4 linked regions of the Homo sapiens genome follow. The protein of the gene in region 1 purifies or fractionates together with the protein of each later gene. This does not show direct contact. Each region holds a gene or a part of one and is shown on either strand. Other genes may lie near its edges.

Region 1 (7,857 bases):
AGTCTGGTTAAAGAATGACTGTTTATAAGCTTCTGATCAAAGTTTACTCCCTCTTTTTCTTCCTAGGAATAAAAACGGCCTCTTTGTCAGGGCTCAGCATCAATACTTACTGACAGCTGCCTGAGATAAGCAGGTTAACCTATTCTACACGCATTAAACATCCACAACTGTGTGCAAAGCCCCATCACGTGGGATCGAAGCCATCACTGCGCTGCTCAAAATGTGAGAGGAAGTTCCCCGAGATCTCTTACCGCTGCACACACTCCTTCACCACTTCATACTGGCCAATGGAAGCAGCTGTGTGAAGATCCAGGGGGACATCCAGCTCCTCCCCGCTGACCTGTGTCCCGAGCCCGTGCCACATGGACAAGCTGCGGTTCAGGAGTTCCGGCTCGCTGGCTTCATCGCTGAGCTCGGACATCACTGAGGAGGAAGGCCCAAGGGTTAGATCTTTCCTGGCTGGTTGTTCCAGGGCATGAAACAGGCTGGTCCTGCCCCTGCTACACCACTGCACTAGCAGACTGATAACCCAGTGCAGTCAACCCCGGGAGTAACTCAGACAAATTTATTTGCTGAAATAATGTATGCTTTGGGCAGTCCCAACCATGCTAAATCTGGTGAGCCTGCTATCACACCAGTAAAGAGGAGCACATATGGTGAGGCATTAACTGTGGAGTACCTGCTCCTCCTTCCAACCGCAGGCACCAGGTAAAAGAGAATTCTCCACCAACTCTAGGAACCTGACAACCTCTTGGATGGGCAGTGAAGAAATGCTAATTGGGTTGTTTAACCCAATCAGTTCCTTGATGTGGTGGGGAAGAACCCTGGATTTGGGGTTTGATCAAAATTCAGCTTGGACCCGGTGCGGTGGCTCACACCTGTAATCCCAGCACTTTGGGAGGCCAAGGTGGGCAGATCACTTGAGGTCAAGAGTTCAAGACCAGCCTGGCCAACATGGTGAAATCCTGTCTCTACTAAAAATACAAAAATTAGCTGGGCATGAAGGCCAGCTACTCGGGAGGCTGAGGTAGGAGCATCACTTGAACTGAGGAGGCGGAGGTTGCGGTGAGCCAAGATCACGCCATTGCACTCCAGCCTGGGAAACAGAGCAAGACTTTGTCTCCAAAAACAAAACAAAAAAAAAAAACAACAAAAAAGCAGCTCTGCTACTTAGCAACTCCAATCCCTAGTGCCTCACTGTCTAACGGGGACATATCTAAAAAGGCTGCTATTATGATACATAAAAGAATGGATAAACAAACGGTGGCACATCCATATAATGGATGCTACTCAGCATTAAACACAAGGATCCAACAGTTGACATGCAACACGTGAATGAATTTCAAATGATTTACGCTAAATGGAAGAAGCCTGCCTACAGTATAATTTCACTTACATGACATTCTGGAAAAGGCAAAATTAAAGGGTTGGAGGTTGGGGCAGAGAGGGAATTTGGGGGACGATAGACCTGTATGACTGTGACGGTGGATCTGTGACTCCATGCCTTTATGAAACCACAGAACTGAACACCAAAATGAATTTTACTGTATGTAAATTTTATTTATTTTTTTGAGACAGTCTCGCTCTGTTGCCCAGGCTGGAGTGCAGTGGCATGATTTCAGCTCACTGGAACCTCTGCCTCCTGGGTTTAAGGGCTTCTTGAGCCTCAGCCACCTGAATAGCTGAGATTACAGGTGTGCGCCATCATGTTAGGCTAATTTTTGTATTTTTAGTAGAGACGGGGGTTTCACCATGTTGGCCAGGCTGGTCTCGAACTCCTCACCTCAGGTGATCCGCCCGCCTCAGCCTCTCAAAGTCCTGGAAATATAGGCGTGAGCCACTGCACCTGGCCTGTAAATTTTAAATATAAATTAATTTTTCTGGAATGGTTATGAAATTGAAAATTTCAAAAAAGTAAAAATAAATTTTTCTGAAAAAAATAGAAAGCAATTCCCCAACAGACAAACCAGGATGTGACTGGTGGCACGCAGCAACCGTCAACTGAATAGGAATCCACTTAGGCATCCTTTGAAGAGAGAGCTATGGGGGGAAATATAACAGGCCGGTGAACTGGTGAGGTAACACTTTCCCCGAGATGGGCCTACATGGGTAACGGCACACCAGGAATCCCCAAATCAAGGCAAGGTCATCAGCTTCCTAGTAGAATCCTTAGGTACAAGAGTGCCAGGAAACAAGGGTAGGAAAGGGAGCAAAGGCGAAAACAAAGGCCTTGTCAGGTTGTGATGACCTACAGGTGCTATGGTAGTTAATAGATGCGATGAGGACCTCAGTTTCTATTAAAGAATGCTTCCAAGCCCCAGGTGACAGCCAAGATGGCTAAAGAAACAAGCCACCAATGTGGGAGACGAACACTTCACAGACCCTTGGTGAAGAGTGTGTGTAGGTGCGGTGGGGCAAGCAAAGCCCTCCTTCCTGGAGCCACCACCTCTTCAGCTAGCAGAGCCCAAGATCGTGCAGTGCCCTTCCCTCACTTTGCAGGTGAGAATCCCACCCTAACAGCCCTGGCCAACGAAGCCTGGATAAGAAACCAAACGAGCTGAGGGTCAGTTCAGAGTCCCTTCCATACCTCCCTCAAGCCTTCACTGGGCATGTCTCTTCCACGCCAAAGGCCTCCTGCAGGGTGAGGCCGTGTTCTCTATTTACTGGAGACTTGCATATCTGACATCCCCAGAGGTCTGAAGGACAATGAGAACCAGACCAAGCGTGACGGACCACTTGAGGCCAGGAGTTCGAGACCACCCTGGCCAAAATGGTGAACTCCCATCTTTACTAAAATTACAAAAATTAGCTGGGTGTGGTGGTGGGCGCCTGTAGTCTCAGTACTCAGGAGGCTGAGGCAAGAGAATCGCTTGAGCCTGGGAGGCGATTGCAGTGAGCCGAGCTCAAGCCACTGCACTCCAGCCTGGGCAACAGAGCGAAATTCTGTCTCAAAAAAAAAAACAAAAAAAAAACACTAAAGTGAAAACTAAAATGTCCCATCCCGAGTGGTGTGGTGTAAAGTAGCATTAGAGATAAGACGTTTTAGTTTTCATTCAACTTTTTGGTTCTGTCCATTCTGAAAATGCTAAGTATCTGTTACCTTTACAGTGAATCCTAAAGAAAATGTGGTACTTAGACACAATGGAGTACTATTCAGCCATAAAAAAAGAATGAGATCCTATCATTTGCAAAAACATGGATGGAAGCGGAGATCGTTATGTTTAGTGAAATAAGCCAGGCACAGAAAGATAAATATTGCATGTTCTCAATTATTTGTGGTTATCTAAAAATCAAAACAACTGAACTCATGGACATAGAAAGTAGAAGGATGGTTACTTCTAGTGTAACCAAGGCTGGGAAGGGTAGTGGAGGGTGGGGATGCTTAATGGATACAAAAAAAACAGAATGAATAAGATCTAGTATTTGATCAAGCCACTGCACTCCAGCCTGGGCGACAAAGCGAGACTCCGTCTCAAAAAAAAAAAAAAAAAAAAAAAGATCTAGTATTTGACCGCACAACAGGGTGACTATAGTCAATATAATCTAATTGCACATTTTATTTATTTATTATTATTTTTTTTGAGACATAATCTCACTCTGTTACCCAGGCTAGAGTGCAGCGGCGTGATCTCGGCTCAATGCAACCTCCGCCTCCTGGGTTCAAGCGATTCTCCTGCCTCAGCTTCCCGAGTAGCTGAGATTACAGGTATGAGCCACCATGCCAGCCTAGTTTTCGTATGTTTAGTAGAGACGAAGTGTCCCCATGTTGGCCAGGCTGGTCTCAAATCCTTGACTTCAGGTGATCCGCCCGCCTTTGCCTCCCAAAGTGCTAGGATTACAGGCGTGAGTGAGCCACCGCGCCCGGCTGCACATTTAAAAATAATTCAAAGAGTATAATCATATTGTTTGTAACACAAAGGATAAATGCTTGAAGGGATGGAGACCCCCATTTTACATGTGATTATTACGAACTGCATGCCTGTATCAAAATCTCTCATATACGCCATAAATATATACACCTACTACGTACCCACAAAAATTAAAAAATTTTTAAAAATCTTAACAAATGTGATGCTGGTGGTAACTGTCACGCCCACAGAGGAGGTCTGTGAAAGCACCCAGGCACCCCCTCTCGCCCCGTGGAACCGCATCGCAAAGGTAGCTCACTGGCCCCGGGGCGGGTCCCTGGCCGACAAACCCGTAACTCACAGCAGTGACGCTTCCCGACGCCCCCCGGCCACATCCCCACAGGAACGCTACGGCGCACAGGGCATTACTGTGCCCCCACCACAACCACATAAAGAAAATGTGGGGGCTCGGTCCTCCAGTCACGCGGCGAGCAAGTGCAGCGCGGGACGCCCGAGCGCCGGGTCTAGGCGGGCTGCAGGTGCCGGCAAGTGCTGGGGCCGGGCCGCCGCGGAACCCACCTGTGCTGGGCCTCAGGCCTTGCGCCGCCCTCGGGCTGCCGTCGCCAACCCCCCCCAAACAGCTCGCCGCCACGCTCCCTCGCCGGGGCACCGCCCCCGGCACCCGCCCCGGAAGTAGTTGCGGGAGGGCGCGGAGCACGCCGGGAAGCTCGCGGGTCGGCACCGGGACAGCTCCCGGGCGCCGTGGAATGCACACGTCCCGCACCCGGACCTTCCGGTCAGCTTCCCGGCTCGCTGTCTGATGCCCGCGGTAGCCAATGAGCTAGTGGTGTTTGTCCTGCTCCGTCCCCGCCCTCCAGGGGAACCAATCCCATTGCAGGAGAGGCAGGACGCGCAAAGGCCCGAAAGAGGAGCTGGGCGGGGTGGGGGGAAGGCGGAGGCAGTCTAGTAATGTAAAGCTCCGCTGAGAGGGAGAGTGCTGAAGAAGGGGACAGCCTCTGTACCTGCGGCGCGGCCCGAGGGGCGGACGCGAGCGGAGTGACGCGCTGGAGGCTGTTTATAGCGCTGTCAGGACAGCGCGGGGAGTGGAGGCAGAGGCCTGAGGTGAGGGGCCTCGGGCCTGCTGCGCCTGCAGGGAGTTGAACAAAACGCGGGGAAATACGGGCTGGGGGTGGGTGAGAGGAGGAGCGATGGGCTTTCCACTTCCACAGCTTTAAAATTTAAAAGCTCGACCCGGGAGGCTGTTGGCGTCTGGTTGCCATAACAACCGGCAGCCTCGTGGCAGGCCGGCTGGGGGCGGGGCTCTGAGAACCGGGGCGGGGCTGTGGCGGGGCTAACAGGCTGCAGCTGAGAAACCCACCCCGAGACGGAGCCGGAAGGCCGTTATTCAGAGGCGGCTCCGAGCCTCCCCTTCGCCTTCTGGATGCTCTGAGCTCCTCAACTTGGCGTTCAGGGCCCTGCATTGTCTGGTCCGTTTTCACCGGAGAGTCCAGCAACTGACACTTTCTTCCCTTAAACCTGTTGGGCGGTTCATTCCTTTGAGCTACTGTACATGCTCTTCCTTCTGCCGGTAATGCCGTTCCCTCCCCTATTGTCTTGTCCGCCTGAAGGGTTTATCAGAGTCTCTGGAGGCCCTCTTCATCCCGACGATTCTGTTGCCCTAAGAAATACTGTGCCCTGAATTGCGGAACAGAGCTCTAGTTACAAAAAACACCCGCTGGCTGTGTGCACCAGATGCGTCCCCAACCCGCTGCTCCCAGTTCAGAGTGCACCAAGCACCTGCCCTATTCCCAGAAGTACAGAGGAAGCAAGCAGCCCCCAATTCACATCTCCTGCCGCTGCCCTGATTGGGGATGAACGGGCACTGACTGCAGGGCCAAAGCCACAGCGGCCTCTCGAGCTGCAGAGTTCTCCTGACACTGGCTCTAGAGGACCCTCACCCCCCAGCTCTCAAGCTCAAGCTCCCCAGCCCCCTGAATAACAGGACCATCTCCTTTAAGACTCTAAGATATAAATGCAGGGGCTGGTCAGAGTAGTGACTCCAAAAAAAAAAAAAAATCACTTAGTGACTCCAAACTGTCAGCCAGGCGCGATGGCACATGCCTGTAATCCCAGCACTTTGGGAGGCTGAGGCAAGAGGATCACTTGAGGCCAGGAGTTTGAGACCAGCCTGGGCAACAGGGAGACTCCATCTCTACAAAAAATAAAAATGTTAGCCAGATGTGGTGGTACACACCTGTAGTCCCAGTTATTCAGGAGGCTGAGGTGGGAGGATCACTTGAGCTCAGGAGGCCGAGGCTTCAGTGAGCTATCATTGTACCACTGCACTCTAGCCTGGGCGACAAAGCCAGACCCTGTCTCCAAAACAAAAAAGCAAGGTGTCTTCTGTTCCTTGGTAAAGGGCAGTAAAGGGTAGTAGGACTTGAAATTCCCCCTGATTCAGAGTCCACTGTTGCTATTTACTAAACACCCTGAGCCTATGAAATGAAGAGAATAGTTATGCTATATGGGGTATATATAAAATATACCTATATATCATTATATATCGTACATATGGCATTCTATATAACATGTACATATATCTACATAGGTATATTTATATCAATACATATATTTGTATATTATTATGTATATATCACTATATACATTATATACCTGCAGGCTCCACATGTGTGCATGAGTGGGAACACACACACACACGTACACACACAGTGCCTGGCACTAACAGGAGCTTGCATAACTAGAAGGAAACTGAGGCAGGTGGTGAGGCCTGCCAGCCTGTTTGGTCTCCTACAGCTGGTAGAGCAGCCCCTGCTCTCCTGACCTTCAGTGGCCCGGACCCTCTTCCATCACCCTGTGTACCCCACAGAGCTCCCCGGATTATGGTGCACTGAGAAGGCATCTGGAAGCCTGGGCCCTCATGGCATCCAACGATAAAGGCATGGCACCCTCGCTGGGCTCTCCCTGGGCCTCCCAGATGGGGCCCTGGGATGCCATCCTCAAGGCTGTCAAAGACCAGCTCCCGTCTCTGGACTCAGACTCCCCTTTGGTAAGCAAGAACTCTCTCCCTGGATGCCTTGTCCTTCCTACCAGAGCAGGCATGACGCTGGCCAGGACAGCTTTGGAGCACTTCTCTGAAGACTTTTCCTGCTGACCTGTGCAGTTTGTTGTCATTTTACTTTAAATCGCATGGCCAGACTCAAAGTTGTGTTTTCTGGGTGCCTATTTCCTTCTTTACTCTTTCTTCTGCCTTGATTGTCATCTCTGAGCATGGGTATTGGTGCTCAGCATCTTGGGAGACCCTTTCAGTGGAGTTTTTGGTGCTGACTTGGAACCCAGGTCAATTTGATGCAGAAGCTCTGTCCTTTCCATTCTGCTATTCTCCACTCTCTCGTGCCAGGACAGGGCCAGAACACCCACTGAGAATGCACAATTCCAGTGCATTGTGATAAGCCTTCGAGGGATTCTGCATTTGTGGTTTGGGGTCCCTGAAATGGCTCTCAAAGACGCTCAGACCAATAGCCCTAGGTGCAGGCATAAGACCCTGCTAAAGATGCTCCTGGCGGGGGCTGCTCAGTGCACAGGTTGGCACTGGGCGTTAAGAGACAGTATGAGGGTTTTAAAAGGAACGGGCAGGGTTTGGGTCCTACCTGGGCACCAGCAACAGAGCTTCAGGGACCTCAGACGTCATCCAGTGCATGACGAGGCTAAGGAGAACCTAAGGGGACCCCACGCCTCAGTGCTCAGGGTGTTTTCACACCTTCAGTCTCATTTGAGAGTATGAGCCCCAACCCCTTCAAGAAGACAAACTAAGCTGTGTAAGTGATGGCTCAGGGTCACAGGGGATGGGGAGGGCTGGACCCTGCTCTTTCAGCTACCACCTCACTGCCCTGTTCATGTCACGAGGCATTAATGAAGCACCTGCTGTATGCGAGGTACTTGCAGAACCAGGAGCCCCAGTCTCACCTCCACGAGGTTGTGCTGCCAAGCC
Region 2 (7,639 bases), on another chromosome or scaffold:
AGGCAGGAGGATCACTTGAAGAAAGGAGTTCTAGACCAGCCTGGGCGACACAGCAAGATCCCGTCTCTACAAAAAAAAAATAAAATTAGCCAGGTGTGATGGCACACTCCTGTGGTCCCAGCTATATGGGAGGCTGAGGCAGGAGGATCACGTAAGCCCAGGAGGTTGAGGCCACAGTGAGCCATGTTTGTGCCACTGCACTCCAGCCTGGGTAACAGAGTGAGACCCTGTCTCAAAAAAATAAAAAAATAAAAATCCCAAAACAAAACCTACATGCTTACATGTTGGGAAGACAGGACCAGGGCCAGTAATACTGGGAACACAGAACTAATTCTATCTGAGGCTACCAGGAAGCTGCAATAAGCTGCTTGGTGAGTGGCCAGATACACAGGACACCAGGGAACACATGTGAGCGGAACACCAATGGCCACCGACTGCAAGTATACTGCTCTGGTTGTGAGGTCCCTGCATCCTGTCCCACCAACATTCTGGAGATGACTTCGGAGTGTCCTTCCGGGTCCTTGGTCTGTACTCATCTGTGGCTCCTGGCATCCACAACTCTAAAACCTGTTGGTGCAGACCAGGTGACCTCTAAACTTCCCTTCTGCTCTAGTGAGTCAGGATGTACCTTCCAGAAAGAGGGAGAGAGTGGAGTAGGGGAGACACTGGCTGCTGAAAGTATTTTAAATGATGTAGATACTGACAACCTAATATTAAGTACAACTGTATACACAGCATGAAAACAACCATGCCAAGTGTACACACACCTTATACACAGAGGAAAAACAGGAAGAAGGCATGCCAAGAGATTAACACTAGTCATCCCTGCACTGTGGGACTACAGCGGCTATTTTATTCTTTATTTTTCAGATATTCAAAATTGTTTTATAATTTTTTTTCTTTTTTAAAAAGGGCATGTTTCTTTTTCTCTCTAAAATCAGGCTGTGGGGCCAACCCTGGAGACAAAAACTATCTTTCGCAGACTACTGCCTTTGCAGGCTTAGTTTCTTTCCTGGGCAAACTAGGATAATAGCCATGAATCAAATGGAATAATAGATGCCAGAGCTCACCCGAATGTTTCAGATGCTTGCAAATACTATTGCACAAAAAAACTGTTACTTATACTGCTGTTGTGGTGTTATAGTTTATCATCAAAAAACAGACATAAACATCATAGACAAGGACAAAGAGAAGAAAGTCAGGATTTGCGTCTTTTTTTGTTTGTTTTTGAGACGGAGTCTCGCTCTGTCGCCCAGGCTGGAGTGCAGTGGCACAATCTCGGCTCACTGCAAGCTCCGCCGCCCGGGTTCATGCCATTCTCCTGCCTCCGCCTCCCAAGTAGCTGGGACTACAGGCGCCCGCCACCACGCCCAGCTAATTTTTTGTATTTTTAGTAGAGATGGGTTTTCACCATGTTAGCCAGGATGGTCTCAATCTCCTGACCTCGTGATCCGCCGCCTTGGCCTCCCAAAGTGCTGGGATTACAGGCATGAGCCACCGCGTCCGGACCCTTGTGTCCATTTTTAATTTAATTTTTTCAGACAAGGTCTCACTTTGTCACCCAGGTTGGAGTGCAGTGGTGCGATCTTGGCTCACTGCAACCTCTGCCTCCCAGGCTCAAGTGATCCTCCCACCTAAGTCTCCCTAGTGGCTGGGAGCACGGGCACGTGCCACCATGCCCGGCTAATTTTTTGCACTTTTTGTAGACAGGGTTTCACCATGTTGCTCAGCCTTGTCTCGAACTCCTGGGCTCAGGCAATCTGCCCGCCTTGCCTCCGAAAGTACTGGGATTACAGGCGTGAGCCACTGCACCCAGCCTAGGATTTGTGTCCTTTATCAGACACGGGCTGCATTTGCCATTGCTCCCAGCATAGAGTTGAAGCGCCACTAGTGAAAGACACATGCATGGGTGAGGGCTGGAAGGGACTCTAGAACACAATATGAGTACACGACCTTGGACCCAAGACACACATGTGTGCGTACACACACACACCATACACACCCCTCAGAATGTGTCTCCCGCACACACACCTCAAAACACCCCTAAGAACCAACCGGAACATACACACTACACAATACACACAGAATACACACAGCATACACACACCCCCCTCGGAATGTGTTCCCACACACGAACCTCAAAATACCCCTAAGAGCCCACCTGAACATACACCACACACACACAGAACCCAAGAACTGCACCAACCCCCCTCCTCAGAACCCAGTGCCTCCTCACCATCCCCCAGGACCCAGTGCCCTCCCAACCCCCCAGGATCCAGCATTCGCTTATCCCCTTCAGAACCTTGCACCCTCACCCCGCAGGACCCAGAGCCCCCTCACCTCCACCAGCACCTGGTGACGCCTCAAACCCCCCAGGACCCAGCACACCTCAGCCCGTGGTGTCCCCTTATCCCACTCAGGACCTGGTCCCCCTCTCTCCCCTAGGACCCAGGGTCCCCTCACCCCCCAGAAGCTGTTGCCCTATCACCCCCAGGACCCGACGGCCCCTTACCCCCAGGACCTAGTGTCCCTCAACCCCAGGACCCGGCACCCCCTCAACCCCCAGGACCTGATGCTCCCCCAACCCCTCAGGAGCCGGGGCCCCCTCACCCCCAGGACCCGGCACCCCCTCAACTCCCAGGACCTGGTGCTCCCCCAACCCCTCAGGACCCGAGGCCAACTCAACCCCAGGACCCAGTACCCCCTCAACCCCTCAGGACCCGGGGCCCGCTCGCTCACCCACCCAGGACCCGGCGGCCGCCACACGCACTCTCGCTCCCGCAGCTCCTCTGGTACCCGCCCTCGTACCTGGCGCATCTGGGCCTCGGCGGCGCCGCCCTCCTGCCTTCGCAGCTGCTCCCGGAAGCGCGCAACCTGCTCCAGCAGCGCGTCCACTAGGGACGGCGCGGCGTCCCCCTCCAGCGCGGCCAGGCGGGCGCGGAGGCGAGCGATGAGGGCGTCGCGGGCAGCGAGCTGGTCCTGCAGGCGGCGCAGCCGCTGTCCGGCCTCGTGGTACAGGGTGCAGAGCGCGGCAGCTGCGCGCGGGGCCTCCTCCCAGCCGCCCGACCCCGGGTCCCGGGACATGGCTGTAGGCCCGCCCGGGAGGCCGCGCGGCCGCCGGCAACTTCCGCGCCCGGGCCCCGCCGGCTGCCGCCCTTCCCGGAACTTTCCCCGGTGCGCCCCGCCCACCCACAACAGCCCGGCCCCGCCCTCCCCCACGCAGCCCCGCCCCCCGCGCAGCCCCGCCCTTCCCCGCGCAGCCCCGCCCGACGGCAGCCCGCCCAGCCCCTTCTCGCCCGGCCCCACCCCTCCCACCGCCTACAGCCCGGCCCCGCCCCTGCCGTCCGCACCCGTCCGGGAGAGTTGGCCTGGCCCCCGAGGCTGTCCACACCCCAGCTGGTGCTGGGCTTATTCCAGTGGCCCCAAACATCCGCCTCTGAGGAGTTGTCGGAGAGTCGAACTCAGCCCAGGAGTTTGGGGATTCATCAGCCTCTGATGGAAAGGAAGGGCTTAACGACAACCCCCAAGCTCTGGAGCTAAGTGTGGGTCTGAATCTCCCCGCGAGGGTCCAGGCCTTGCGGCCACAGCAGCAACAGAAGCTCCAGGAGCTGAGCTCGCAGCGCACCAAGCACGTGGCATGTGTTCCGTCACCTGGGGACACTGAGCCCAGAAAGAGCTCCAACCCCCTGCCCCGCACGCCGCTTTCTTTTTTCTTTCCTTTTTTTTCTTCTTTTTGAGACGGAGTTTCGCTCTGTTGCCCAGGCTGGAGTGTAATGGCGCGATCTCGGCTCACTACAACCTCCGCCTCCCAGTTTCAAGCGATTCTCCTGCCTCAGCCTCCTGAGTAGCTGGGATTACAGGCGCCCGCCACCATGCCCTGCTAATTTTTTGGTATTATTAGTAGAGATGGTGTTTCACCATGTTGGCCAGGCTGGTCTTGAACTCCTGACCTCAGGTAGATCCACCGGCCTCAGCCTCCCAAAGTGCTGGGATTACAGGCGTCAGCCACTGCAGACGCTGCTTTGTAAGGTGGCTAGTATGGGCCCACGGGACAACCTTCCTGCTAGATGCTGTTCTTATATAGCAGAAGCAGCAGGAAACCAGCCCCTTCCCACCCTTTCGCTTTTCCATCCCTTTCCTTCCCCAAAATTCCCAGACAAACGCTAGTGTTTTTCCACAGCCCAGTCTTCCCCACAATGATGCCCAAGCACACATGGGGTCTTTCCAAGGTTCCCTACTCAGGATAGGGCAGGGGTCTTCCCTGTGTGTGCACTTGCCCACAGGCTCCGCCCCTGAGCAGCTTCTTGACTTTCTTCCCTTATGTGATCCACAGCCAAGCCTGAGCTGAGCCTGGGAAAACACAAGCTTGTAGAATCAGACAAGCCTATAAGCAAAGCCAGAGCCACCCAAGTGCTTATGGCCCGGACATTGGGCTACACAGGCCTGGCTTTGCTATGGAAGGCTCCTTCTTACTCATCAGAGCCTGGGCTTCCTCTCAGCAGAAGGAAGGGCAGAGCGAGTGCCCACCCTACCTGGTTGGGCTGTTGTGGGGACTAGAGGGTGGAGTGTGCATGGAATGCTTGTCCAGTGCAGTGGCTGCTGCACAGCAAGCCTACAGTCCCCATGGCTATGGTTACAAACAATGCCTATTGATTGTCTGGGGCATGAGTGGAAAAAACAAAACTGGACCCAGAGCTGTTAGAGGCTAATGTGTGGCCTGGGGCACGTCATTCCAGTGACCTACCTTGAGCCTCTGCCTCAACTGTAAAAGGTGCATGTGACAATCCACAGTCTCTCATCCAACAACAGCCTTGGGGTCAGGTGTGGTGTATTGTATTGTATTGTACTGTACTGTATCGTATTGATTTATTTTAGACGGAGTCTCAATCTGTCGCCCAGGCTGGAGTGCAGTGGTGTGATTTTTGGCTCATTGCAACCTCCGCCTCCCAGGTTCAAGTGATTCTCCCACCTCAGCCTCCCAATTAGCTGGGATTACAGGCGCCCGCCACCACGCCTGGCTAATTTTTTGTATTTTAGTAGAGACGGGGTTTCACCATATTGGTCAGGCTGGTCTCGAACTCCCGGCCTCAAGTGATCCGCCTGCCTCGGCCTCCCAAAGTGCTGGGATTGTAGGCGTGAGCCACCACGCCAGGCCGCCATGTGTATTTTAGAAATGAGGATCTTTGGATTTCAAATAGGTACATATAACTGGGGGAGCCAGCTTTCAAAGAGGATCCCCTCCTTCCAATATCCATGCTCCTGTGTAGTCCCCTCCAATCCACTGGAGAGGGCTGACCTGGGTAACTAAGAGGGTACTGCAGAAATGATGGAGTGTGACTTCTGCAGCTAGCTCCCACAAGACATCACGGCTACTGCCTTGCCCTCTTTCGGAGCATTCTCTCTGGGGGAAGCCACCCACCCTATCATCAAGTAACCCTGTGAAGAGGTCCATGTGGCAAGGAACTGAGGCTTCATGGCAGCAGCCGGCGCCCACTTGCCCACTGTGGTGAAGAAGCCACTTTGGGACTGTATCCTCCGACCCTAGTCAAGCCTTCAGAAGACAGTAGCCCCCACTGACATACTGACTGTGACTCCATGGAAGACCCCGGGCCAGGACCGCCCAGCTAAACTGCTCTGAGTCCCTGACCACAGAAACTGGATGAGATAATATATGCTTATTGTTTTAAGCTACTAACATTTGGGATAGTTTGTTCTGCAGCAATGGAAAATGAACAGCTAAAATCTGACTTAGTGCTCCCACTGGGACATGGTACAGCACCACAAAACCAGACAGATTACAATTTCTGCAAAGACAGGGTGACCATTCAGACTGCGAGATGAATGAAGATCAGAAAAAGCCTTGTAGCTGTTGAAGTCAGATTTTGTACCACCTTTAAGAAAAACATTTTGGGGCCAGGTGCAGTGGCTCATGCCTGTAATCCCAGCACTTAGGGAGGCCAAGGCAGGAGGATCTCTTGAGCCCAGAAGTTGGAGCCCAGCCTGGGCAACATAGCAAAACCCCATCTCTACAAAAAGTTAAAAGAAACTAGGTGGGTGTGATGGTGTGTGCCAGTAGTCCCAGATACTCAGGAGGCTGAGATAGGATTGCTTGAGGCAGGGGTTTGAGGCTGCAGTAAATGGTGATTGTGCCACTGCTCTCCAGCCTGGGCCACACAGTGAGACCCTGTCTCTGAGAAAAAAAAGAAAGAAAGAAAACTATTTTGGGTTTCTGAGCTTTTTAGATTTCAGAATTGCGGATGAGGGATCCCAGACCTCCAAGAACACTTGTCTTAGAGGGTGTTGTAAATATTCAGTAAGGTCACATGGGAAGTGCCCAGCATGCTCTTGCCTTCAATGCAAATTTAGGTACTGGGCCAGGCACTGGGGACTCATGTGTGGACATTGTAATAGTGGAGACAGATCCTTTTCCAAAACAAGAATAATTGCAACGTAAGGAAATTTTGTGTAAGGAAAGGAAGGGGAAAATGTGTATAAGAAAACAACAGGCTGGGTGCGGTGGCTCACACCTGTAATCCCAGCACTTTGGGAGACCAAGGCAGGCAGGACTCCTGAGGTCAGGAGTTCGAGACCACTCTGGCCAACATGGTGAAACCCTGTCTCTACTAAAAATACAAAAATTAGCCAGGCATGGTGGCGGGTGCCTGTAACCCCAGCTAGTCGGGAGGCTGAGGCAGGAGAATCGCTTGAACCCGGGAGGCAGAGGTTGCAGTGAGCCAAGATAGCGCCATTGCACTCCATCCTGGGTGACACAGCGAGACTCCCTCTCAAAAAAAAAAAAAAAAAAAAAAAAAAGGAGGAACCTAACTTTAAAGAGGGTGATTAGAGACAAGATAACAGTCCAGCTCTGCAACCTAAAGGGTGAGAAGGAGCCAGGCATGAGAGTTGGCTGAGTGAGTTCACAACTGGGTATGGCCTAGAGTTGGGCAGGAGCTGATACAGGGAGCAATTTCTTTCTTTTCCTTCCCTCCCTCCCTCCCTCCCTCTTTCTTTCCGCATTCTCTTTCTTTGTTTCTTTCGAGACAGCATTTCACTCTGTCACTCAAGCTGGAGTGCAATGCTGCGATCTCAGCTGCAACCTCTGCCTCCTGGGTTCAAGTGATTCTCCTTCCTCAGCCTCCTGAGTAGCTGGGATTACAGGCACGTGCCACCATGCCTGGTTAATTTTTGTATTTTTAGTAGAGATGGGGTTTCACCATGTTGGCCAGGCTGGTATCAAACTCCTGACTTCAAGTGATCTGCCTGCCTTGGCCTCCCAAAATGCTGGGATTACAGGCGTGAGCCACCGCGCCCAGCCAGCATTCACTTTCTGTGTTCTGAAACTCATCTAGATTTGTGCAGGATGGGGCTAGTGCAGCAGGCCTAGTGTGTTCAACCCTGCATGTTCCAAAAAAGGGACTGGCCCTAGACCTTTTGGAATATCCCACCTGATAAGAGTGTCTTTGCTTATGTGGGGGCCTTGGACCACACCAGCTAGTCTAAGCTAACTTGAGGCCTTGGGTCATGAGCTTGAGCTCTGAAGGAGCTGGAGACCGAGTAACTCAGGTCAGCCATATGGGCACTCCCCGCCTATGTGATCAACCCCTAACCACAGCTCTGGACACAAAGTCTCAGGTGAGCT
Region 3 (7,158 bases), on another chromosome or scaffold:
AGCTGACAAGAAGGCCTGCCTCTCACTTCTGTGTGGAGATCAGCTGCCTGAGTTTCTTCTTGCCTGGGGGATTATGGTGCTGATCCCTGGGATTCAAGGCCGGGAATGGAGACAGGAAAGCAAAAGCCTTTGAGGGAGGTGGAGTATGGTGGACAAGAGGGACCAGATTCATAGCTTCCGCTGCGGTCGGGGAAGCTGTCAGGAGAGGGCAGTGCAGAGCTTCCTTGCCTTCTCTCCCTAGCTCTGCCTTACAACCGGCCGCACACAAGGTGAGTGTGCTGAAATTGGCTCTTCCTCCCCAGACAGGGCAGCTGAGCTCACGCAGGACGCACATCTACCTTGTCCCCTTCCCTGGGTAGTCAGGTGTATACTGAGGCCTCCAAATTTTGTCTGGCCTCTGGTCCCATGAAAAGAGCAAAGGATTGCCACAGCAACCACAGAAAGAGAATTGTGCACCAGGGTTACGGTAGGTAATAAGATTTACTGAAAACGTCTCGGCCACATTCAGTACTGGTTTGGTGGATACATCAGAAGGAGGTTGCATAACATTAGGCAGGTGGAGGGGCTGAGAGGAAGAGATGTGGGCACCTGTGTGCCAGTGTGTCCGTGCTGGGGGACGCCTGTCCAGGTGGTGAGTGGAACGGTGTGTGTGTGTGTCTGTGTGCGCGTGTTAACAAGAAAAACGAACCAGAAAAGGAAATGCATTTTATCCCACTGCACATTGCAAAAGTCTCACGCCAAAAAAGCTAGACTTTCCTCTATGTATGGCATCAAAAGGGAGTAAAAAATGATTGGATCACCCAGATTATAAATAAGGTTATTTGTTTCTCAAAAATCCTTATTAAAACATTAAATATCAGCTCTTTTGGGGGAGAAATACATTCATTTCAGGGAGACCTCGGAAGAGTGACCATCCTTTTGCTCTACCCCAACCAGGTGGGGGAGGGGAAGCCCCAGAGGGCCCAAGGGGTCCCCTCCAGTTGAGCCAGGTAGCCACTCACATCCTGCCACTGAAGGAGGTGGCCAATGCACAATTTACAAATGAAACTGCACGTCCATTAAATTAAACCCAATGGAAAACACACGTGTGACCTGTCCTGTCATTCACAGCCATGGGGTGAGAGGGAACCGGAGGAGAGGGTGCCAACCAAGGGGGTCTGGAAGGTGGGTGGGAGGGTATGTGTTAGGGTGGACAGTGGAGAGCCTCCTCCTCCTTCCAGGAGCCCCAGTTCCTCCAGGGCTGTGGATAGCAGGGTTAGAACAGCTGGGTGGGGTGTGTGGGATGGGCATCCCCGCAGGCTCTTGGGTGCCATTCTCTGGGCCCTCCCCCACATTTAGGATATTGATGGGAAGAGGGATGTAGCACCTTCTCCAACCCCTGGCTTCCCACTGGACTAGATGCTTTCCAATGTTTCTTCTGCCTTCCCTGAAGGACAGAATGAAGAAAGGAAGCTGGAGGCTGATGGAGCCAGGCTGGGAGCAAAGGGATGGCCGTGGCGACCTGCGGGCTGGAAAGATTCCCAGATAACCTGGTTTCACCTTCTCTGAAGGTCTATGGAGGGCGTGGAGCACTGAAGGTGGGAACATCTAGGGTAAAAAACCATTGTCCTGTTGTTAAAGGAGCTAAGTTCTGTGATCACCTAGGGACAGCTGTGGCCTCAAAGTCACCTCCATATGGTTCCTAGCCCAGGGTCTGCCATCTCCTTGGCTCTTGGAGTCAACCCAGAAGGGACTCCTCTTAACCTCCCACAGGTTGAGCCCACCAGCTTACAGTTGGTTTCCAGGAGAGAGTGAAGGGCACTGTGGCTCCCATCCCTTTCTCCCATGTCCATGGTTGCTGTGCGCAGAGACAGGGCCTTGGAGGGATGAGCTGGAGCCTGGTGGATTCCATCCCATTCTGATCTGCAAGATGTGATGCCTCAGGCCCTCCCACTCCTCTGGCCACTGGTTATGCTTTGGGGCTCCCTCCTGCCCTTGAATGTCTGTCAAAGGAGCTGAGAAACTTCTGGGGATGAAACTCAGTCCCCCTTTGTCTCTCCCCTTCCTTCTAAGTCTGCCCCCGGGCAAAGGCCTACTCTGCGAACAGCACCAATCTGCCTCAGTGCAGGGCTTGTAAACAACTCAAGTCCTTCCGTGGGTGGGGGCCATGGGTGCCATCTATCCTCAGGGATTTGGTGAGTCCAGATCTCACTCCTGTCTTTCCACACAGGCTGCTCGACTGGCCCCGCCAAACAGAGTCCTCGGCAGTTCCAGGGAAGTGGGGCTGGGGTCCTCATTGAAGCTCGGTGGTTGGGAAGGAACAGGTGTCTCCTTTGCCTTTCTTCAAGCTACTGATTTGGGGAAGCTAGGGCCCAACTCCCTCGGTGCTTCCTGCCCATGTCCCCTTCCCCCCCACCCTGAAGGCCTCCCGGCGACACTCCTCTCCTGCTCAGTGATCAGTGCCATCTGGGCTGCCCGACTACTCCAGGGAGTCACTGTGTTCCAAGCCCAGGTCGCTGACATTTGTCGTCTGCAGCTCGTCGACCTCCTCCTCCAGCTCCTCCTCCTCCTCCTCTTCCATCTCATCCTCATCCTCTTCTTCTGTCCCATCCAATGAGTCATCGTGTGCAGCCATCATAGCCTGCTGCATGGCCATGGTGGCACTGTCTGAGGACAGGGACTGCAGGTTGTCCAAGTTGATGGAACCTGCGAGAGAAAGCAAGGGTCAGGACGAGGCAGGGGCTGCTGGTCAGGGCCAGCACCTCTGTGTTGGACAGGGTTTAATGGACTGGCTCATAGAGCAGTGAACTCCTTGTTTTTAGAGCTGTCCAAGCCTGAGCTGGACAATGCCCTGGTATGAAGTCTCCCATCCATTCACTAGTCAGCTACTCCCTGCCCCATCTCAGGAAGCAGCACTCCCAGCCACCGTTCACTGCACATTTTCTTTATGTGTTGGCCACTTTTGACTTTCTAACAATTCTGTAAGGCAGGTATTATTATCCCCATTCTGTCTCAGACAGTTAAGTCATTAGCTCAAGATGACATTGTCAGCGATGACAGAGTTGGAATTTTCTCCCAGGCTGGTCCAGCCCCCTAAATCTGTTTTTTTTTTTCCCATCATAACCCATAAGATGGCTCATCACAAAGGAACCTGTGCACAACCATACACATACACGTGTGCATGAGGTTATGTGTGCACACACGCACACCTACGCTCCACTCCCCATACAGAGCTATCTTCATATGCCAAGCTATAAAATGCTTGGCTCATTGAATTATTCATTGTGCACTAGGCGACTGGCAATTAGAAAAGTGTATATGGAGGGTGTGATGGAGAGGCTGGGAAAACAGAGCTCTTCCTGGCCCCTGTTCACGAGCCAGCTGCCTGCCTTGATATTTATAGATGGCCTTGGCTCCTGAAGAGCTGTGCAGATACTTACTGGTGCTAAGGAACTCAGATGGGTGCGGACATGGGGGGCTCTGCTGAGCAGTCACTGACTTGCGTGACCACCAACTCCCGCTTTTCTTTATGAGAGTGCATCTGGTCTGTTAAATTATGTACAAAAACATCCCCTTCTTTAGGGCTTTGGGGAGGGATAATCACTGTGGCATGGCAGCGATGGGAGCCCAGGTAAGGAGATAGCCCTTGAATCTTTGCACGGCTTGACCTGAAGAAGCTCCAGGAGCACCCCCAGCCCTTGTCTAGGGTGCACTCAGCCCCAGTTCTTACCATCGGGGTTTGTCCCTGGGGCACCGCCCTGCTGCTGCAGCACCCCCGCAGCGATGGAGTTGGGCCAGAATCTTTGGGTGGGCCGGTGCTGAGACTTGATCTTCTTGGCTTTGGGGGCAGGATCTGGGTTGCTGGCATCAAGCATGGGCTGCAGGATGCGCCTCCGGGCATTGATGAACCTGCCCAGAGGTAAAGTGGAGACCTGGTTAGTCATCACCTGCATGGCCTTGGGGTGGGGGCAGGGAGGGTGAAGCTGCCTTCAGACTCCATTTCACAGAGCAGACCGGGGTTCCCATCCCGGATGTAAAAGCCCAGCAAGGAGGAGGGCCCTGGGTGCTGAGAAGTTCATGAAATTTCCTGGGGCTTGGTAACTGCAAAGTCATATGGGAAGAATGCATGGGGGGTCAGAAATCCCTGCTCAAGACCTTCCAGGTTGAACGGAGGAGGAGAGCATGGTAGTCATAGGCACTAACCTCTGACTTCTCTCCAGAGAGCCAAGGGCTCGGATCAGGGCCCTCAGCTCTGGGGTCTACTTCCATCCAGCCAGACCTTGCTCTCTGAGCTCCCCTGACAGCCCAGCCAGGCACAGAGACTGGGAAAGCTGAGATCCCTGTGGGGTCAGAATGGCTACTCCTCCTCCCTCTCCCCACTCCCAGCTTTGCAGCTAGTTTTAGTCTCAGTTCACATGGGGGTGGGGAAGACCAGATGACCACTGGCCTCCGGTGCACAGCTGCGGGCAATCCTGTCTGTCTCTGAAGTGCAGGTGGGCTGGGTGCTCAGGTGGGCGTGGGTTTTCTCTTCCTCAAGAAGCTTCCAGGGATGTGCCTGACACAATGTCCCAGCAGAGGGCGCTGAGAAGCTGCAGATGAAGCCACAGGTGCCAGTGTTGATTCTTGCTTTCTGCTTCTAGCCTAAATGGGGGGACTGGCATGGTAGCTGGGCTGAGATTGAGGCAGATCCTGGCATTCGAGTCTCTTTTCCCTGCTACGCATTCCCCTGCCCAGAAGGTGGCCCCTGGATCTGGGAGCCTGCATGCAGGTGATGCAAACTCACCAGTTGTTTACTTGCAGGAGGGTGAGGTTGGTCTGGGCTGCGATCTGCCTCTTCTCATCCTCCGTGGGGTAGGGGTGCTGAAACGAGAGGTGGAGACTAGTGAGGGCTGGGCATATGCTGATCTGGCCCCCCCAAGGGACTGTGCCCACGCCATGGGCACTATCCTGAGCCAGGCAGCCCGAGTGGTTTGGGAACCAAAATTGGGGAAGTGTCATGTTTGCTCCCCACAGAGAATGGACCTAGGGCTTGGAGGAAGGTTGCCCCATGCCCGAGACTCCACATCCCGGGCTGGCCAGTCCTCAGCCAAGCCCCCACAATGGGGAGCCAGGGAGGTTTCCCAAGACCAAGATGGTTCAGTACTGACAGCTTCCAAGGCACATCCTTCTCACTTGATCCTCACTGCCGCCCCCAGCAGGCAGGGCAGGCATTGTCAGTGTTAGGGTTTCCAATGGCCTCAAACGCCCATAGAAGGTGGTAGGCGGGGTGAATGGATCAATTTAAGTTAACTGCTATTTACTGAATATCTACTATGTGCCCAGATTTATGCTAGGCATGGCTAGGAGACAGAAGAGTACTACTTGTATAGTGCTTTATAACCTGTAAAATGCTTTCATGCATTTTATTCATTAAAAAATCATCATTTTATTTAATAAAGCACATCATTGAAACTCTGAAAGGCAGGCAGGTTAGGTATTGTTATTCCCACTTTGCAGATGAAGAGATGGAATGACTCCTCCAGTGTCCCCCAGATGGTAGCACCAGCTCAGGTCTTCCGATTTGGGTCCAGTCTTTCTTCCATTGCTTCATGATGCCACTTTATAGGACTGAGTGGAGGTGAGAAAGAGAGCAGGGCAGGTGTCTCTCTCAGTCCCCCACATGCTGCAGCCCGTGCACTGACTACGCATCTGTCTCCCTCTCTCAGACTGTGCTTCATGACGGCACTGGGATACTGAATGTATCCCCAGTGCCTTCCACATACAAATGACATACAAATGCCTGCTGAGTGAAGGAAAGCAAAAGCACAGCACTCAATGCTGTGGTTTGGGTGATGAGCCCTGTAGAGGCTAAGAAGGAGAGAAATGCAGTGGTGGGGAAGACTGAACAGGTCACATTAAAGAATGAGAAGGCTCTGGGTGGCAGTGGGAAGAGAGTCGTGACCCCATTGGGAGGGAGGCCACAGGATGGCTGAGTCTATGCATCCCTAGGACTTGTTCAGGCCACAGCCCTGTGCCTGGCACCCAGCATGCAATTAAGGTGTGGCGAACGTCTGAATAAGTCAGAGTTTTGTCCTGGAAGCTAGGGGAGGTTTGGGGGCTCTTATGGCAGAAGATCAAGCCATCCAGCATCCTCAGGCTAAAATCATTCCTTTTGATTGGAGTGGTATTAGAAAGTGGTGCTTGAGCTGTCTAAGGTCCCCGAGATGGGAGGTCTCAAAATCTGGCTCTATTATGACTAGCTATGAAATCTCAGGCACGTCACCTAACTACACATCAGCAAGTCATCTGACAAATAAATGAAATTATACTTGTAAAATGCTCAATAAAAGGTACGAATACTCTTATTATCAGGGGGTGTTACAAGGTGCTTAGAACTTTCTGAGGGAAAAGGCTGCGGTCAGCAGCCTTGGTGGTACTCGCATTATCGGTGGAAAAGGAGGAGCAGCCTCTCCCCTACCTCAGCATCCCCCAGATGAAGCCATCAGGACCATGTGTTGCTTTAATTCAAACCTCTGACCCTGACCACCATGCCAAGGCAGCTGGGACTTGTGATTCATACGGTATTAAGATTCTAACAAGAAAGTAGGCACATCAGCATTACAGGAGCCAATTTTCATTCTAATTGGGAAGGAGCGGAGGCAGGATGGGAGGAGAGGGTGCAGATGGCCCCAGGGGGCAGAGAGGCAAGGACTCTGGGAGCTCTGACACCTTCTGGGGTCAAGCCCTAGTGCCTGGCTCCAACCTCCCTATTTGTGGGAAAGAGCCAAGCAGCCTCCCTGTCCATAGCCAGCTGGTCTGTAGACAAAAAGCAGCAAAAATATGGTGATTTTTTGGCCTTCCCAGGTGCAAGGGCCTTTCATGCCTCCATGCCTTCGCACGTGCTGGCCCTCCTCTGGAGCGCGCTTCCTCCTGCCTGTCCTCGCGTGCCTTTCTGAGCTTCTGTGAGGGCCTGCCACAGATCACAGCCTCTGCAAGGCCCTTCCCGACTCCCTGAGGCAAAGCTGGTCACCGTGGCCTCTGAATGATTGCTTTTCGCCCACTAGATGGCAAGACATGTGTCCCCCACTAGGCCATGAGCTTCTCTCAGGCAGGGACCCCATCTCATTAGACATTGTTTATTTCCAGTGTGCAGACCAGGCACAGTGTGCAGACAGGCAAAGAGGCCAACGTTGAAGGATT
Region 4 (6,420 bases), on another chromosome or scaffold:
AATATGCCTTTGAAATACATTTTGTGATAGTAAGGACTTCCTGGTACTCCCTTAAAGTTTAAAGGGCAATGTTGTAATTTTACATGATGCATTTATTTCCAGAGGATGTCTACAGTTGCTTTCGCTTCCTACGTGATGTTTTTGCAGATGAGTTCATCTTCCTTCCAGGAAACACACTAAAGGTAAAGTGCTTACAACAAAGAGCAAGTATGTTTGCAGTGTGAGTTCTAGAAATGTTAGGGGTGAATTCACAGATGTGTCTCAGGCAGTGTGCCATCCCTTTCTTCAAGGCAAAGTGGGGCAGACTTCAAGAGAAACTGGGGCGCTCACAGTTCAGCAGACTCTAGTTTGATTCTTGATCAAGTTTAATTAATAACTTAGGGATTATATGGTGAGAGGAGAGTCATTCTTTGAACTATCAGTGTGGCCATTACAACTAAACTAACTTTATTTTAGTAAACGTTTAAAAATCAGCACACAGCCGGGCGCAGTGGCTCATGCCTGTAATCCCAGCACTTTGGGAGGCCGAGGCAGGCGGATCACGAGGTCAAGAGATCGAGACCATCCTGGCCAACATGGTGAAACCCCGTCTGTACTAAAAATACAAAAATTAGCTGGGCGTGGTGGCGCATGCCTGTAGTCCCAGCTACTCAGGAGGCTGAGGCTGAGGCAGGAGAATCACTTGAACCCGGGAGGTGGAGGTTGCTGTGAGCCAAGATTGTGCCACTGCACTCCAGCCTGGTGACAAGAGGAAGACTCCATCTCAAAAAAAAAGAAACCAAACACAACAAAATCAGCACACATTTTCCTGTTAGCAAGTTGTTAGAATGAGTCACCCAGGCAAGTGCCTTTTACTTTGAGAGTAGTGAGTGCTGGTCCTGCCTGGTCTAGACAGCTGAGGGGTCATCAGGCTCGCAGAGCTGGACTGCTGCTGGGTTGAAGTGGGAAGTGACAGTAGATGAGAGGCATGTTAGGTGTTTGTGTGCTTTAAGGATAAGAGGTTTGATTCTGTAGGGAGTGGAACAGGAGTGTTGGAAACTTTTTTTTTTTTTTTTTTTTTGAGGTGGAGTCTGGCTCTGTCGCTCAGGCTAGAGTGCAGTGGCGCAATCTCAGCTCACTGCAAGCTCTGCCTCCCGGGTTCACTCCATTCTCCTGCCTCAGCCTCCCAAGTAGCAGGGACTACAGGCGCCCACCACTACGCCCGGCTAATTTTTTATATTTTTAGTAGAGACGGGGTTTCACTGTGTTAGCCAGGATGGTCTCGATCTCCTGACTTCATGATCCGCCCGCCTCAGCCTCTCAAAGTGCTGGGATTACAGGCGTGAGCCACCGCGCCCAGCCAGAAATTTTTTAACCATAGCATAATTCTAAGTATTTTTAGGACTTGCTGTATGTATTTCCTATTTAAATTAAGGAGTGGTTCTGCAAAGTAAAAGAAAATCCATCACCCAGGTTGTGATTTGTAAGGCTCAGAAATGTTGTGTTTGAAAACATTTTGAATGTAGAGCAGATGCTTCTCTGGCTACTATCTCACAACCAGAATTGTTCTGGAGGTTGGGGAAATAGCTGGTATTCTGTTGTCTGAGGGCATGTGGCTGCATATATTCAGATAGGCAGTGTATCCATTAACCTAGATGAGGGGGTACATGTATTCAGATGGGCACTATACCCATTAACCTAGATGAACATTATGGCTTCCTCTTCCCTTCTAGGACTTTGAAGAAGGCTGTTACCTGCTTTGTAAAAGTGAAGCCATACAAGTGACTACGAAAGACATCCTAGTTACAGAGAAAGGAAATACTGTGTTAGAATTTTTAGTAGGACTCTTTAAACCTTTTGTGGAAAGCTATCAGGTATGTAAATTTGGCAAGTTCTCCTTCATGCCCCCCATATCAAATATAATAAGACATTCTCACCCTGTGCTTATTTCCAGTCTGAAGGGCAGGTATCTTCCCCAGGCAAATGGAAGAAGGAGAGAGAGTGACTAATACGATCAGTGATTTCACCTCACCAGTGAGACCTTGCTCCCCGCATTCAGGAGGAAGCTTGGTTCATTACAGACCCAAGAGGACAACAGCTTAGTGATGCCATGGTCACAGTATTCACAGGACCACAGTTACACCCACGCATCATCTGTCATACTGTGTCTCATGTCTTAATGAGGCCTTCATGTCAGTCAATATGTAACCTCGAGGTTTGATATATATCAGGCACTCAGTAAAGGCAAGACTTGAGTGATACATAAAGTCAGTTACAGATTACCAGATGTTTATGTTGGAAAGAAAAAGTTCAAGTGCAAGTTCTGAAAGCGTTTGTCAGAGCTCTTGGGAGTAGTTAGAGAGATGGGATGGTATGTTGCCCAGCAGGAATTGTGGCAGGACTCAACGGGAGAGAAAGAGTCTGAAACATAAACTGTAGGAAGGACTTCCACATGCTTGAGAGAAGAGGATGCTGTGACTCGGCTCTGTTCATATAATACATGCACTGGCTCTGGGCACCTGGACCCACTTCCTGGTGCTTGTGGTCCGTGAAATAACTCATTCAGCCTCCTTGCACAAAGTCTAGCACTTACTGAGCATTTGATAAATGCTAGTTCTACCCTTAATCACTGTTCTACAGTAGAAATCATCAAGTATTTTAGGGCATGGTACTTTCTTAGGTGTATTTAGAGAAAAAAAGCAAAGTTATTAAAATCTGACCCCTCTCTTCCCAAGTAGCATAAGAGATACGAAGCTGATGGTAATTAACTTGTACCCCTTGAAGTGAGAAATTATACTTTAATAAATGTCATTATTATTTTAAATCTTTTTCTAATTGTAAAATGTAAACTCAAAGGAGATGCCCTAAAAATTCTTTGGTTTTTCTGGGCTCATTCCTTGGAGGGTCTTTATGCTGCTCTCTTGTGATATATCCTTCTCTTAAGAGGGGCAATGTAAAGTTATTTACTATTCTGTTGAACTTGGCTATCCTTTTTCTCTTTCTGTTCCCCTCATCCTTCCTCTTAAAATCAGATAATTTGCAAGTACCTTTTGAGTGAAGAAGAGGACCACTTCAGTGAGGAACAGTACTTGGCTGCAGTCAGAAAATTCACAAGTCAGCTTCTCGATCAAGGTCAGTCACTGCTCTGTGGGTGCTGATTTCTTTTAGTTGAGAATAGAAACTGGTCAACTAACTCTTCCTCACCCCCAATTTTAGGTACCTCTCAATGTTATGATGTATTATCTTCTGATGTGCAGAAAAACGCCTTAGCAGCCTGTGTGAGGCTCGGAGTAGTGGAGAAGAAGAAGATGTAAGTACTGTACAAGATCCCATGAGTGCTCAAGGAACAAGGAAATGAATGACATTTGAGCTCAAAATCCAGAGAGACATAGAAATGGATGATCTAGGAAATGCTATATTCTACTTTCCTTATCCATCCTCTAATTAGTTAAGTCAGTGTGAGTTATCCTGAAAATTGTATGTGGTTATGAATAGAAATGCAACTGAAGCAAAGAAAGGAAGAAATAACTTTAGGCCAATATTTTTGCTTTGACTTAATGTTGAAATTTATAATTACAAGAAAGATTTTCGGGAGTGTAGTGGGCATATGAGTGTAGACACACATAAATACACACATAATACATATATAGATACATACCTGTATATGTATATATAAACATATAGATGTATGTTCTTCTAAGTGGTTGAATTTAACAGTGATAAAGCTTAATAGTAAACTCTGGCAGTCATGTCTCTTATGTGGTCAGAAGAATGAAGCAAGAAGCCAGGAGGTGGGACAGGAGCCTGAGGCCTTTCGACTACTTAGGCCCAGCCTTGAGGAAGGCAATTGAAAAGTAGTCTTACAATAGCTACGTCAGGAACAAAATATAAAAGTTGTCTTTTCCCCAGAGTTTATGTAATAATAAAGCTTATTATTTTCTCCTAGAAATAATAACTGTATATTTAATGTGAATGAACCTGCCACAACCAAATTAGAAGAAATGCTTGGTAAGTGCAGTTTAATAAAATACAAGTTTTCACATTTTGTTGATGAATTAAAATAAGAAAGTATACTGTGGCACCAAATACTTTATCAAAATGATCAGTAAGTAGTAGAGTTCTAACATAAAAGGGAATTACTTATGCAGTCTGGAATTTTCTCAAGGAAGCTAACGAGAAAGCACAAAGAAAATTAACAAAACACAGCAGGCATAAAAGAAGCAGTCTTACACAGTAGAAAGAGTCAGTCCCTAACATGACTGGTCTCAGCCAGAGGCCCAGACCCTTCACATCCTTGCCTCAGAGAGAGTACCTCATCTCCACTCTTTGTTTGATGCTCTCACTGTCTGTCTTGCATTGCTTCTTTCCCAAGTGAGAGATTAGTGTCAGTGTCTCTATCATGTAGACTTTCTGAACTCAGAATTAGGGCTGATAGCACATCCTTGGGAGAATAATCCAACCCTTACTCTTCTCTAGAGCCTATCAGCTATGAAGAAATAGTCTAGTCCAAAAAGAGTCCTTGAGTGTTGTCTTCCTTGACATAAGAGTCCTTGAGTGTTGACATAAACAGAGGTACAATCAGAGGGGGTCAAGAACACTTTTCCTAGCAATGATGCGGCCATTTTAGAAAGGAGGGTGTTAACATTTGGAAAAAATAATCTGCTGATTATATTGAATGGCGTGATGTCCTTGAGTGGATCGTCTTCCAAGTACTGTTTTTGTACCTAATCTTAATTCAGTACCTCGTCAAACCTGCATGGAAGAGCTTTAGATAAATGTCTGTTGGGATTTGCGGAAGACCAGAATGGGGCATACGGAAAAGGAGAATGGATGAAGAAAAGGGTAGAAGGGCAGTGGGGTAGTTGTTGCATATCGGGAAGGCGGAAGTACTAGACCTTGTAGAAAAAAATATGTAGGTCGAAATCCCAGTCTTCTATTTATATCGTGTCTGAAGAGGTGCATATACCTAAAACAACCACAAACACCTCGCCCTGTGAGGGTGACGGAATCAATTACTTAATCACGGAAAGCAGATGTGATGTGAGCGTGAACATACTGGACTGGAGTTCAGAAAACATGACGGGGTTCAACTCCTGGCCCTGGCCCTGTGGCTCTGGCCATGCTGTCACCTCTTGGAGCATCTACCGCTTCCCTTGTGGAGGGGGCTGGCGTCCCCATGGGTACTGGCCAGCCTGTGAAGCTCTGCACAAGTCTCCAGCTTCTCCCCTGGACAGTCGCCCAAGGAACAGCTGTATGAGGAAGGGCAAAATCAGCATCATTTCATGAGCTGCTTCTCTTTTTTCATCTTAGGTTGTAAGACACCAATAGGAAAACCAGCCACTGCAAAACTTTAATAATCAACAAATAGTTATGGAAAATTCGGTCACGTAATTACTCTCATCGAAGGACTCATTACAACAAACAGGGAAGTAAAGGAAGAGACACATCCTCTCATACTCCCTGAGACTCTGAGAACAGTGGACGCAGAGGGAAGAGATGATCATTGGAAGCAATCAGTTTACTCTTCCCCACCACAGTGGTTAAAAGGCGTTTGTATCTGACACTATGTGTGTGTTTTAAAATAAACTTTTGGAAACATGTTTGGAAAAGCAAAGCTCAGCTCATTTCACTAACACTTTTCAGCTTACTATATGTATTAAACTTTTATGTTGACTTTTGAATTAAAGTATGACAACACTGAAAGCTCTGGATATTAAAAGAAAATGAAAAGGGCATATCTACGTTACTTGTAGCTTGCTTTAATTAAAGTTGCCTCAAACAAGTACAAATTTGAAAGAGATATTTAATAAATTAGCTAGCTTACTTTAAATGTTGGCCACCCTAGGGCCTTAATTAACAAAAATGAATTAGTCAAGTATGTGCAACAAAAAGATGCTGTGTGATGCACCATAAATATGTGTAAGAATTCAAGAGAAGAGAAATTTAGAGTAAGTAGGTAACACCAGAAACCTTGGCAAGTAGCCACCTCTGGAAGTGACATGTAAGCTGAGAACTGGATTGAGCAGGAGCCAGCCCCTAGAGTGGCAGGGTTGGAGTGACGGAGGAAGGGACAGTGGAGTGCAGTGTGCCAGGAGAAAATAGTGATCAGGACGTCCTGGGGCAGGTTCCAGAGCTCCCAAAAGATCAACATGGCTGGAACAAGAGTCACAGATAGTGAAATTGAAGACAGAGGCAGGCGCATTAGTCAGTTTCAGGGTGCCATAACACAACAGCTTAAACACAGCTTAGGCAGCTTAAACACAGACCTATTTTCTCACATTTGTGGAGACTGAAAGTCCCAGATCAAGGTACTTGCATAGTAGGTTCATTTTGAGGCCCCTTTCTGGGCTTGTAGGTGGCTGCCATCTTACCGTGTGCTCAGAATGACCTCTGGGTGTACTCGGAGAAGAAGCAAGTTCTCTGATGCCTCTTCTTTTAAGG

The links.
Region 2: the proteins of DNAAF8 (region 1) and TNIP2 purify together in Homo sapiens (affinity purification with mass spectrometry; 2 studies listed by BioGRID and IntAct, with this or other methods). This does not show direct contact.
Region 3: the proteins of DNAAF8 (region 1) and PKNOX2 purify together in Homo sapiens (affinity purification with mass spectrometry; 2 studies listed by BioGRID and IntAct, with this or other methods). This does not show direct contact.
Region 4: the proteins of DNAAF8 (region 1) and GNPAT purify together in Homo sapiens (affinity purification with mass spectrometry; 2 studies listed by BioGRID and IntAct, with this or other methods). This does not show direct contact.

Annotation. Positions count from the first base shown.
Region 1 is NC_000016.10:4,729,729-4,737,585, forward strand, and holds the start of DNAAF8 (dynein axonemal assembly factor 8), read left to right. Parts: upstream 1-4,808; 5' UTR 4,809-4,970; intron 4,971-5,229; exon of another isoform or gene 5,230-5,418; coding exon of another isoform or gene 5,419-5,436; intron 5,437-6,735; coding exon of another isoform or gene 6,736-6,786; coding exon 6,787-6,915; intron 6,916-7,857. Other genes in the region: ANKS3 (ankyrin repeat and SAM domain-containing protein 3), read right to left, coding at 252-423, 4,210-4,243. UniProt on the Homo sapiens protein: In cyliated cells, dynein axonemal particle-specific protein required for deployment of ODA to the axoneme. Interacts with outer dynein arm (ODA) subunits.
Region 2 is NC_000004.12:2,753,206-2,760,844, forward strand, and holds the start of TNIP2 (TNFAIP3-interacting protein 2), read right to left. Parts: upstream 3,132-7,639; 5' UTR 3,085-3,131; coding exon 2,809-3,084; exon of another isoform or gene 2,744-2,808; intron 1-2,743. UniProt on the Homo sapiens protein: Inhibits NF-kappa-B activation by blocking the interaction of RIPK1 with its downstream effector NEMO/IKBKG.
Region 3 is NC_000011.10:125,426,693-125,433,850, reverse strand, and holds the end of PKNOX2 (homeobox protein PKNOX2), read right to left. Parts: intron 4,840-7,158; coding exon 4,763-4,839; intron 3,889-4,762; coding exon 3,710-3,888; intron 2,686-3,709; coding exon 2,459-2,685; 3' UTR 462-2,458; downstream 1-461.
Region 4 is NC_000001.11:231,272,210-231,278,629, forward strand, and holds the end of GNPAT (dihydroxyacetone phosphate acyltransferase), read left to right. Parts: intron 1-102; coding exon 103-182; intron 183-1,712; coding exon 1,713-1,853; intron 1,854-3,011; coding exon 3,012-3,111; intron 3,112-3,195; coding exon 3,196-3,289; intron 3,290-3,925; coding exon 3,926-3,987; intron 3,988-5,289; coding exon 5,290-5,333; 3' UTR 5,334-5,764; downstream 5,765-6,420. UniProt on the Homo sapiens protein: Dihydroxyacetonephosphate acyltransferase catalyzing the first step in the biosynthesis of plasmalogens, a subset of phospholipids that differ from other glycerolipids by having an alkyl chain attached through a vinyl ether linkage at the sn-1 position of the glycerol backbone, and which unique physical properties have an impact on various aspects of cell signaling and membrane biology.